Regions from separate parts of the Homo sapiens genome. Here region 1 is linked to region 2. The links come from fine-mapping of genetic effects on plasma protein levels. A gene starts in region 2. The other region holds a variant in brackets. All regions are shown on one strand. Distances are between the middles of the regions. Region 1 has its middle 84 kb from the start of GALNT5. Region 2 holds the start of GALNT5 (polypeptide N-acetylgalactosaminyltransferase 5).

The links. PIP is the chance, under the fine-mapping model, that this variant and not a neighbour inherited with it causes the effect. Protein levels are from antibody-based Olink assays in UK Biobank. Linkage for the fine-mapping came from a reference panel and not from the study's own genotypes, which makes the PIPs less certain.
Region 1: its variant is fine-mapped to the plasma level of the GALNT5 protein (UK Biobank, PIP above 0.99).

The regions. Positions count from the first base shown.
Region 1 is chr2:157,170,870-157,176,258 of GRCh38, forward strand. No RefSeq gene overlaps it. Among named protein-coding and RNA genes, the nearest start is that of GALNT5, 84 kb to the right of the region's middle. The variant C/G (reference allele first, on the strand shown) is at 3,126.
Region 2 is chr2:157,255,414-157,260,802 of GRCh38, forward strand. It overlaps GALNT5 (polypeptide N-acetylgalactosaminyltransferase 5), which reads left to right and starts at 2,292. Exons shown (of 10, transcript NM_014568.3): 1 at 2,292-4,123. The coding sequence starts at 2,670.

The DNA.
Region 1 (5,389 bases), 85 kb before region 2:
TAAATAAAACTCCATGCCATCCACCTATTTCCAAAGGGCCTCATAGTTGACAATTTACATTTGCAAGAAGACTAAGATATGACTCATTTTATATCATATTGCTCTCAAAAAAGGCTTCATTAATTTGTACTATGCTGAGTGGAAATTATTCAAGAAGGCTGCTATTTCAATAGGACTGATACTTGCCCATCTGGGTAGATCCATATCACAAGAGTTCACTGATAGACATATTCTGATGTAAAACCTTTTTTCTTGTTTTACCTCTACAGATTTTTTCACCTCACTTTCTCCTTGATTTTATCCCAAGTATTTTGAAAATGTTCCAATTTTGACATCAATCCAATTGCTGAGAACTCTAGCATAAAATGAAGAAAGACACATAAAAAGAACAGCATTAACCATATAAGCACATTCATGCCACATTTATAAGGCAATCAGAGAAAACATGCATATGTACCCAAGTCAGGCAATTTTACATGTGTAACAACTTATCTAATTAAAGAAAGAAATATTTGACAGATCTATACTGGTCAACTAATTACACATTTTCTTTTAACAATAACTAGAATTCAGATGCCATCTAATTACTATGTTTTCCATGATTGAAACCTTAAAATTTTTTTCTTATGTATCAATTGCAATAACATAGTTATTTACATCTATTTTTCTTGATATCTTTATTCTAAATGTCTTTCTTCTTTGCCTCAGTAAAAGTATTCCTCTCTATTGCATATAAATGCTGCATGATAAAAGTACCGCAAAATTTAATGTCTTAAATAGCCTTTACTAAGCTTACAAGCCTTCAAGTCAGCAAATCAAGTTGAATTCTGCTGGGCTGGTCTCAGGTGGGCTCACTCGCATATCTGATGGCTATAGTCACAGAAGTGACTAGACCATGTGTCTCTCATCATTCAGCAGGTGAGCTTAAGCATGTTCTCATGGCAAAATTGAGGAGAAAAAAAATAGAAACCTACAAGTGCTATTTCAAGACTCTACTTGTCTCAAGTTTGCTACCAACCATTGGTCCAAGCAAGTCACATGGGCAATCACCGAGGCAGTGAAGGGTACAACGAAAGGGCATGCATACAAGACACCTGGATAAACTGGGACCATTCATGCCACATAAAGAAAACATGCCTAAGTGCACAGTTAATGCAATTTTACATGTGTAATAGCATTCTAACAAAGGGATAAATCCTGTTATCTGTGCTGATCAATAGGTTAACTGGTTTTATTTAATAATATATTACAAACTCAAATGCCATCTATTTGCAATGTTTGCCTTGATTGAAACCTTTAAATATTCCATATTTATCATTTGCTGAAAAACTTTACTTGATTTCTTTATTGTAAGAGTCTTTTTACTTTCAGCCCAATGAATAAATAGACAGGTAAACCTCTTCCTGGTGTGCTGTTGGTTTTGCTGGAGAGCCTCTGTTCTTGAATTGAGGTGCTGACTGTTTATTTCCATGAGTCAAAAAGCAAAATTTAAACATACCAAATTGTCTACTGTCCATGGTTGGATCTTGGACAAACACAATGCAGCACTTTAAATATGGCTGTGGAAATGATTACTGCTGGTTGCTCATGAGGAATTATTCATCATCACCTCATGTGTTTGGTTCTTTCTTCACCTCCTACTCCACAGACATGAGTGCTCACCATTTTGTGGCCATATCTAAAAGAATTATTAGTCATTAACCTACCTCTTCACCAAACAAGTATTTTTCAAATAAGTATTAAGAATATTGTTTTTAATTGAAAAATAAACAACCCAGGTATATTTTGTCTACTAAACCATGGTTTTATTAAGGGTCGACATAAACCCATGCCGCCTCAAACTTCTGAAGCAATCAAATAGGTTATATGACTAAAAGGAACTACATATTATTAAGGTGTTTTTCCCTTCACATAAGATCTTTAAAGAAGATACTACAGCGGTAAATATAAGCCAAAAGCCTATTTTATGTGAAATTTTACCATACCTTACTTTTTTTTTTTTCCTTTATTTTACTGGATTTCAAAACACACATGTACATTGGCATGAATGTGACCTGTCTCATTATGAATAAAACACCCAAGCAATATGAGCACATTTTAAAACAACAAAGAGTGTACAAAAGTTCAGTCTTCTGGAAAATGCTTGAAAGATATTGTGGATTTTTCCATTTACAGAAGCCTTATTGTTACTGTCCTTCCCACATCTGCTATTCATTTTGGGTACCTCCCCACAATTCAGTGAACAAAGGTGCCAAAATGTTGTTATTAATAATTCTCAAGTACCTTCTTCCTTTACTTCTAAATAAAAGATCTTTAATATATAGAAAGGATACTTAGTTTCACGTGAACCAGGATGCATAGTCTTAGCTACAGGTCTGTGGTTTGGGTGACACTATTTTGTGAAAACAAGGTGCACTGGCAGTTTGAGAGGCACAGGGCACAGTGTTGAGTGTGTTCTCTAGGATGAGATAAACCCAGGACACCAGGACCAGTTCAACCCGGGTCTCACAGAGATTGCTACGAACACTTGGCAACTTCTCAAACCCTAGTTTTCTCATCTGCTTATAATTCTTTATAACTACAACAATAACACAAATGTCCTAGGGAAGGCTATTTTCTGGGGGAAAAAAAAACTGCAGAAGATCTTTCTATAAAGGACAGTACTCTATGACATAAATTCCCAATCTCTCTTTTTTTGTAAATGTAGAATTTTGCCTTTTGATTTTTCCCTAAAGGAAGGCACGCCTATTTTTCTAGAATAAACAACCACAGAACTTCGTTAGTTTAGGGGCGGAAAACGTAAAGGTAGTGGTGTTTTTGTCCCACTGGCACAGATGCTTTAAGCTTTAAAACAACCTCCTACTTCTTAATCCCTCTCTCCATATTCTTGCCAAGCTCTCTGGAAATCTGAGTTTTGGACACCCTCCAATACCACATCTCATCCATATGCCTGCCACAGAGGAAGACATTCCGCAGGCTCTTTCCTTCACTCTATGAATGATTCATGTGTTAAGATCTTAAATACTCACTGAACGAAGGACCTAATGGCTTGAAAACCTGATCTGACGTCAAGGAATTGTGCTGTTTTAGGGACATGCTTCTAAGGCTGGTTGTTTATCCTTGCT[C/G]AATCCCAAATCAGAAAGCCCTCTATTAGGCAAGCAGAGAACATGACGGTGTCCCCTTTTTGAGAATCTTTTCTGAGACTCACATTTCTAAAGAGCATTTCAGCTCCGGTGTCAAAATGGGGAAATAGACTTTTGCTGACAACAGTATATTTAAGTCTACACCAGGAAAAGTAAGTGAAAGGTTAATGTTATCATTTCATTTTCCTCCAAGAAAAATAAACCATATTTTAAAAATCACTTTCACCACCTACAGCAAGATCACAAAACAAACTACAATCTACAGGGAGAGGCTGGCAACTAAAATAAGTGGGAATGATCAAGCCAGAGACTTGGTCCAGTCTAAAAGGGTACAGTCCTTACTTAGCTAAATTTCAATGATTTTTAAGGAAGCACATGGAACCAGAATTGCCAGAACTTTCATAAATTCAACAGAAGCCATAAACCTTCATTCTTATGTGAAGTCTCCCACTTTTAAACATCGGTAATTAATTCAGACAAATGTAAACATTGTATAAGCCAAACAAACACATCTGTAGGCCAGATTTGGCCGGTAATGCCAAATTTGCAAAATTTGACCTCTAGCTCTACTTACTATTATTTCATTTAAAACTGTTGTAAATACTTTGGAGAAAAATTAAATGGAGCTTAGATTCCTTAAAAAGTCTGTAAAACCCTGTCACAAGACTATAAAATGTCAAGAAAGTGATTTTACTTTATGAAACAGGGGAAGAGTGGAGGCCTTTAGAGATAGAAAGTTAGGAGTTAAAATCTTGGCTCAACTGTCTCCTAGCTGTGGGAACTAGAAGATGTTACTCAAATCCTCTGAACATACGTTTGTGAAACGGTGAGAATATTCCTTTCCTATATGTAGTTTATAATTATATAATTACATAGTTCCTAGCATGTAGTAGGGACTTAATAAATTATGACTATTTATATTAGTATAATTTTCAGGATCATTTTAATAATAAACCTATAAAGATTATTAAGGAAACTAATACTATTAGCTTGTATTTATTGAGCTCTCATTATAATATAGGCACAGATCTTGTCCTGACACTTTTAATCATGAAAACAATCCTATGAAGGAAGTTCTATTATTAACTCCACTTTACACACAAGAAAACTAAGGACCAGCATGGCTTATTATCCAACCCAAGATGACACAAATAATAAGAGGCTGTGGGGAGACCGGGAAGGATTCAAAGGCTTCCTGCTATAGCATCTGAACTATTTACCATTACAATAAATCAAAAAGTATGCTATATTCAAATTAATATTTGAGTTTGTTCCAAGCAATAAAGGTCTTGGGATTGTGAAAAGCATTTTAACAAAGAGGAAACGTACTCTAGTCTTACTGCAAAAGACCACCCTAAGCAATTTAAGGTAAATGCTTCTTTTTTAAACTTGGAAGGAAAAATCCAGATTTGCTCTGAACACTGCATGATAATCTCTGGAAGTTAGATAAATGTCTCTTCTTTGTATGCACTTATATAACTTTAAATCTCTTAACTTGATATAAATTGAATCACTTAATATGTGTAATTTGTAATTAGTTAAGAATTATTTGATAGCACTTATAAATAATTAGCTTTAGAAAAAGCACAGGGGTCCATAAAAAAGCATAGATTCTCTTTATGAAGGCAGAAAACTTTGGGTAGACTAGCCAATTTCCATTGTCTTTCTTTTCTTTTTACCAGAACCTCAATTTTGCTAGCTTCTCACCTCTTCCTATCATGATAGGGAAGTTGAGTTCATCCCCAGTTGCAGAGTTGGGTCCTGGTTCATCCACAAATAGCTCCCTCCTGGTGTCTCCTACAGGTTTAGGGACAGGGATGTAGCCTGACTAAAAGGAAAGACTTGCATTCTGTGCTTGACATAAAACGTTCATCTCTGGCTTTTGCAGACTGGGAACAAGAAGACCTGCAGGGTCAACTGACATGAGGAACTACTTCCCCCTTGAAAATGCAAGAAGAACCAGTCTCGGCATAAGGTAGACACCTAATATAGCAGAGGAGAAGGTCAGAAATAACAGAAGGTTTGCATGAAATTATTGAATCAAAGCTCACCAAACATCTTGGTCATTAGTTTTATGAGACAGTAAACCACGATACTATCATCAGTGTTTTTTGTTTCTGATATGGTTTGGCTGTGTGTCCCCACTCAATGCCAGCCCGTGAAAGCAGCTGGGAGGGAGGCTATACCCTGCAAAGCCACAGGGGCGGAGCTGCCCAAGACCATGGGAAACCACCTCTTGCATCAGC
Region 2 (5,389 bases):
TACCAGAAGTTGCTTTACCTCTCTAAGGTTTCATTTGCTGACTACAAAATACATATTGTAATTTACTCCTTCACATTAGATTCTTGTGAGGATTGAGTGAGATAGTCAATGGAAAGAACTTAGCAAAGTGCTTGAGATATATATATGAATTTGGAATCTCTCCTTCCCCTCCCAAGTCATTGGGAACATAAGTTTACCTCAAAGCATGGAAGCTAGACCCTCCCCACACTAGAGTAATGAACAGCAGTGTTGTCCACAAATCACTCAGAGTTCCTCAGAGAGAAGGACAGTGGTCCCGAGAAGTGCTTCTCAAACTCTATGGACAATCTTTACAACTGGCAATGTCAAAATGTGTATTCTGATTTAGTTGTTATGGGAATGCATAGATTTTATTAGACTGTACTTTAGACAGGGAAGGAATGTCACACAAGTTGTAGACTGTATTGGCCAGGATTTTTCAGAGAAACAGAACCAATAGGATTCATAGAGGTAGATAAGTGAGTTGCAGTTTATTACAGGAATTGGCTCATGTGGTTATGGAGACTGAGAAACCTCAGTCCAGGCCACCTGCAAGCTGGAGAACCAGGAAAGCCAGTAACATGGCACATTCTGAGTCCAAAGGCCTGAGAACCAGGGAAGCCAATAACATCACTCTCAGTCTGAGGTCAAAAGCCTGAGAACCTAGTGAGGGATGTGGAGGTTGTGGGGGCAGACTGGTACAAGCCCCAGAGGCCAAAGCCAGAGAATCTAAAGTTCTAGTCCAAAGGCAGAAGAAGAAAGATGTCCCAGCTCACTAACAGAGACAGAATCCACCTTTCCTCTGCCTTTTTTTCTATCTGGGCCCTCAACCAATTAGTGGTGCCTGCCCACATTGGGTGAGGGCATCTCCTCCCCACTCAGTGCACTGAGTCAAATGCCAATCTCTTCTGGAAACACCCTCACAGATATACCTAAAAATAATGCTTTACTGGTTCTCTGGGTGTTCCTTAGCCCAGTCAAGTAGACACCTAAAATTAAATGTCTCATAGGCAATGTTCAAAAACCAAAAACAAACAAACAAAAAATTGAGACTTTTTTTCTAGACCAGTGTTTCTCAACTTTAGCTGCACATTTGAAAGACCTGGGAAGCTTTGTAAAAAAAAAAAAAAAAAAAAAAATATATATATATATATATATATATATATATATATATATATATATTTAATACAATATCAGCCCAAATGTCATCTCCACCTCCTCTCTCATCAATTGACCAGAGTTTTGGGGATCTTGTTTCAAGTGGTTCTAATGAAAAGCCTGTGGCGGAACTGCTACCCTACCAGTCAACCAGCATCACTCAAAATCTGGTCCAAGTCCTGGTGTGGTCCTGAAACTGTTGCTTGCTGGTTTAAGACGAGATAAGTACTGAAACTGAGAGTAAGTGTATCTTAATCTGTTCAGGCTACTATAGAAGAATAACATAGACTAAGTGACTCATAAACAACAGAAACTTATTTCTCACAGTTCTAGAGACTGAGAAGTCAGAAATCAAGGCACCAGCAGATTCGTTGACTGGTGAAGGCCCATTTCCTGGTTCATAGATGGCACCTTCTCATTATGTCTTCACTTTGTGGAATGGCAAGGCAATAGGGCCTCTTTTTTAAGGGTGCTGATCCCATTCATGAGGGCTCTATCCTTATAATGAAATCACCTTCAAAAGCCCTACCTCCTAATACTATCACATTTATGATTAGGTTTCAACATATGAATTTTGGGTGGACATAAACATTCAGACCATAACAAAGTGTTTAGAAACTTTTATAGCAGTATGACAAATTAAGTTTATTTGTAATCAAATGTAATAATAAAAACAGATGGATTAGTGAAAAAAAAATAGTTGGCTTACAAAGAAATACATTGAAACCCCTTGAATGAATGATCTAAATAATTAAACATATACATCTCTGGAAGTGAGGATATACCAGGCCCCTTCTTTAAGCTGTTATGTCTTAAAGCTGAAATGTTAACTTCAGTGATAAATTCCTCAGGCAGAGCATTGGCACCTGGCTACAACAGGGTTAATGAGCAGGAGTAGGGTAGGTGGGGTCACAAACCAGGAACACATGCCCTCCAAGTTAGATAGCTTTTTTTCCTCTTTAATTGCCGTTTAAACACACATGCTCTCACATAACACAGAAGGTGAGAGCTGAATGAAGTTTTCTGGGTAATGGCATGAAATGTTTTCCTTATGAGAAGTGGTGTTGAGTTACAGCGTGCAGACGGAGAACGGGGAGGAGAGAAACGGCAGTCTCAATCTGGCCCCCACCTTTTCTTGGGCTTGTAGGAAGGTGGACATGGGCTCCCGGAGACAAGACAAGTGATATGTTGAACTGTTCGGTGGCTGGAATCAACTGCTCCTGGAGTGACCTAAGGCCAGTGTTTATCAGAACTTAGCCAGGGCCAGCCAAGCAGGCACAGATGCTCTGCTATGAAATGCCACGCAGGCAGAGACTGACAAGCGGTAGGAACTGAGCTTTCCCCTTGGACTGCTGCTTCCTGCTGTGTTCAGGGGAGGGGGTCACTTTCTGGCAACTCTGCTGCTGCTGCTGCTGCTGCTGCTACTTCAGCTTCCTCTCCACTCAAGGTAAGCAGGCTAAGGGAGGGCAGGCTGCTAGGGAAAGCTTTGTACCATGAACAGGATCCGAAAGTTTTTCCGAGGAAGTGGGCGAGTCTTGGCATTTATCTTTGTAGCTTCTGTCATCTGGCTCCTCTTTGACATGGCAGCTCTCCGCCTCTCATTCAGTGAGATCAACACTCGGGTCATCAAGGAAGACATTGTGAGGAGGGAGCGGATAGGATTCAGAGTTCAGCCAGACCAAGGAAAAATTTTTTACAGCAGCATAAAAGAGATGAAACCTCCCCTAAGGGGACATGGGAAAGGGGCATGGGGCAAAGAGAATGTTAGAAAAACTGAGGAGAGTGTGCTCAAGGTTGAGGTGGACTTGGACCAAACCCAGAGGGAAAGAAAAATGCAGAATGCCCTGGGAAGGGGCAAGGTTGTGCCGTTGTGGCATCCTGCACATCTGCAGACCCTCCCTGTGACTCCTAACAAGCAGAAGACAGACGGGAGAGGCACCAAACCTGAAGCCTCCTCTCACCAGGGGACACCAAAGCAAACGACAGCTCAGGGGGCTCCAAAGACCTCATTCATAGCAGCAAAAGGAACTCAGGTAGTCAAAATATCAGTACACATGGGACGTGTCAGTTTAAAACAGGAGCCCCGGAAGAGTCATAGTCCCAGCAGTGACACATCAAAACTAGCAGCTGAAAGGGACTTGAATGTGACCATCAGTCTTAGTACTGATAGACCAAAGCAGCGATCACAGGCAGTAGCAAACGAGAGGGCACACCCTGCCAGCACAGCAGTGCCGAAGTCTGGGGAAGCCATGGCCTTAAACAAAACTAAGACTCAGAGCAAAGAAGTCAATGCAAATAAACACAAAGCCAATACGAGTCTTCCTTTTCCTAAGTTCACTGTCAATTCAAATCGCTTAAGGAAGCAATCTATTAATGAGACACCTTTGGGAAGTTTGTCAAAGGATGATGGAGCTAGAGGGGCTCATGGGAAGAAACTCAATTTCTCTGAAAGCCATCTTGTGATTATAACCAAAGAGGAAGAGCAAAAGGCAGACCCCAAAGAGGTCTCTAATTCTAAAACCAAAACAATATTTCCTAAAGTATTGGGTAAAAGCCAAAGTAAACACATTTCCAGGAATAGAAGTGAGATGTCTTCCTCTTCACTTGCTCCACATAGAGTGCCACTGTCCCAAACTAACCATGCTTTAACTGGAGGGCTAGAGCCAGCAAAAATCAACATAACTGCCAAAGCCCCCTCTACAGAATACAACCAGAGTCATATAAAAGCCCTTTTACCTGAAGACAGTGGAACGCACCAGGTGTTAAGAATTGATGTGACACTTTCTCCAAGGGACCCCAAAGCTCCAGGGCAGTTTGGGCGTCCTGTAGTTGTCCCCCATGGAAAGGAGAAGGAGGCAGAAAGAAGATGGAAAGAAGGAAACTTCAATGTCTACCTTAGCGATTTGATCCCAGTGGATAGAGCCATTGAAGACACCAGACCTGCTGGGTAAGACCTATTTCTCTTCTCTTTCCTCAACCCCAAGTGCTTTGGCTGTTATGTAAAGAGGATTTATTGCTAGATAATTCTGTGTGATTTTTGGTCACCTAGAGAATTAAAGAAACATTAATCATTGGATATCATTCAAATATTTCACCAGCTACAGAGACAAAAATTCTCTTATTAGCAGTTGCAGAGTTCTTGTTCTCTGAGACTTTGGTCCCTACCATTAGCTCATGTTCAATTTTCTTCCCTCTGTTGAAAACCTATTAAAATGATTAGATGAACTCAGTTCATAATAACGTGTATATAAATGGTAGAGCTTAAAGTGTAATTCCATTAGAATAGTGACAATGAAGTGAATTCCCAATTTTGGAACTTTTCATTATTAGCAAGTTTGTCAGGAATATATTTGGGAAAGAAGCACACAGAAGGACTCTTCTAGGCCTCCCTGGAATCATATCTTAACCAGCAGAATTCTGCCTAATCATAAGTAATGATAAGCAGGATAGCAAGAGAAGTGACTTTACTCCCTAAAATTTAATCTCCTTTATAGGTGGAGATGGTAGATATTTCAGGAGATCAGTTACATAGGAATCATAATGTTGGAAAAAGTCAATCAGTCCATGACCAGCAAACACCTACAGGAGGTATAAAAAGCATAATAATAATCACTTATATTTGTAGACATTCACTATTTACAAAGAGCCTGCATACACATAGATGAACTCCATATGAGCCCTGCAAAGGAGGAGGCAGTCATTATGGTTCAAATTAACAAGCTGGCGAGGGCGCTCAGAAGTTACAACACTTTCTCAAGGTAATGCAGTTCTAAAGCTGCCCAATGGGCCTTCAGTAACCAGTCCTTCAAAAAGTTAAATTCCTATAACTATATCACCAGATGTGGATCAAAACATAGATATTTAATCTGATTCAAATATAATTGGGTTCCTGGCATTTTTTTTCTTGGCCCACTGATAAGTGAAGGTACTCAACAGCCGTATGTTCAATATCTGTTAACTCAGTTCCCTAAGTCAAACAATATTTGCCAGGAAGTTGGATTGGGGAATGTCAAGATTGAGACTTAGCACATGTGGCATGTAAACAATGGCCTTGTTTGGCTTCTGTAGAAAATTCTTCTTTGTGATCTAGGTAGTCAGCATTACATTTTAGTCAGTGTTACTAGGAGGAAGGCAGATACAGGAGAAGCTTTATCCACATTAGAAAGAAGAGTCTCTTCATTGTGATGTCGGCTACAACCAGGTCGTTTTCCAT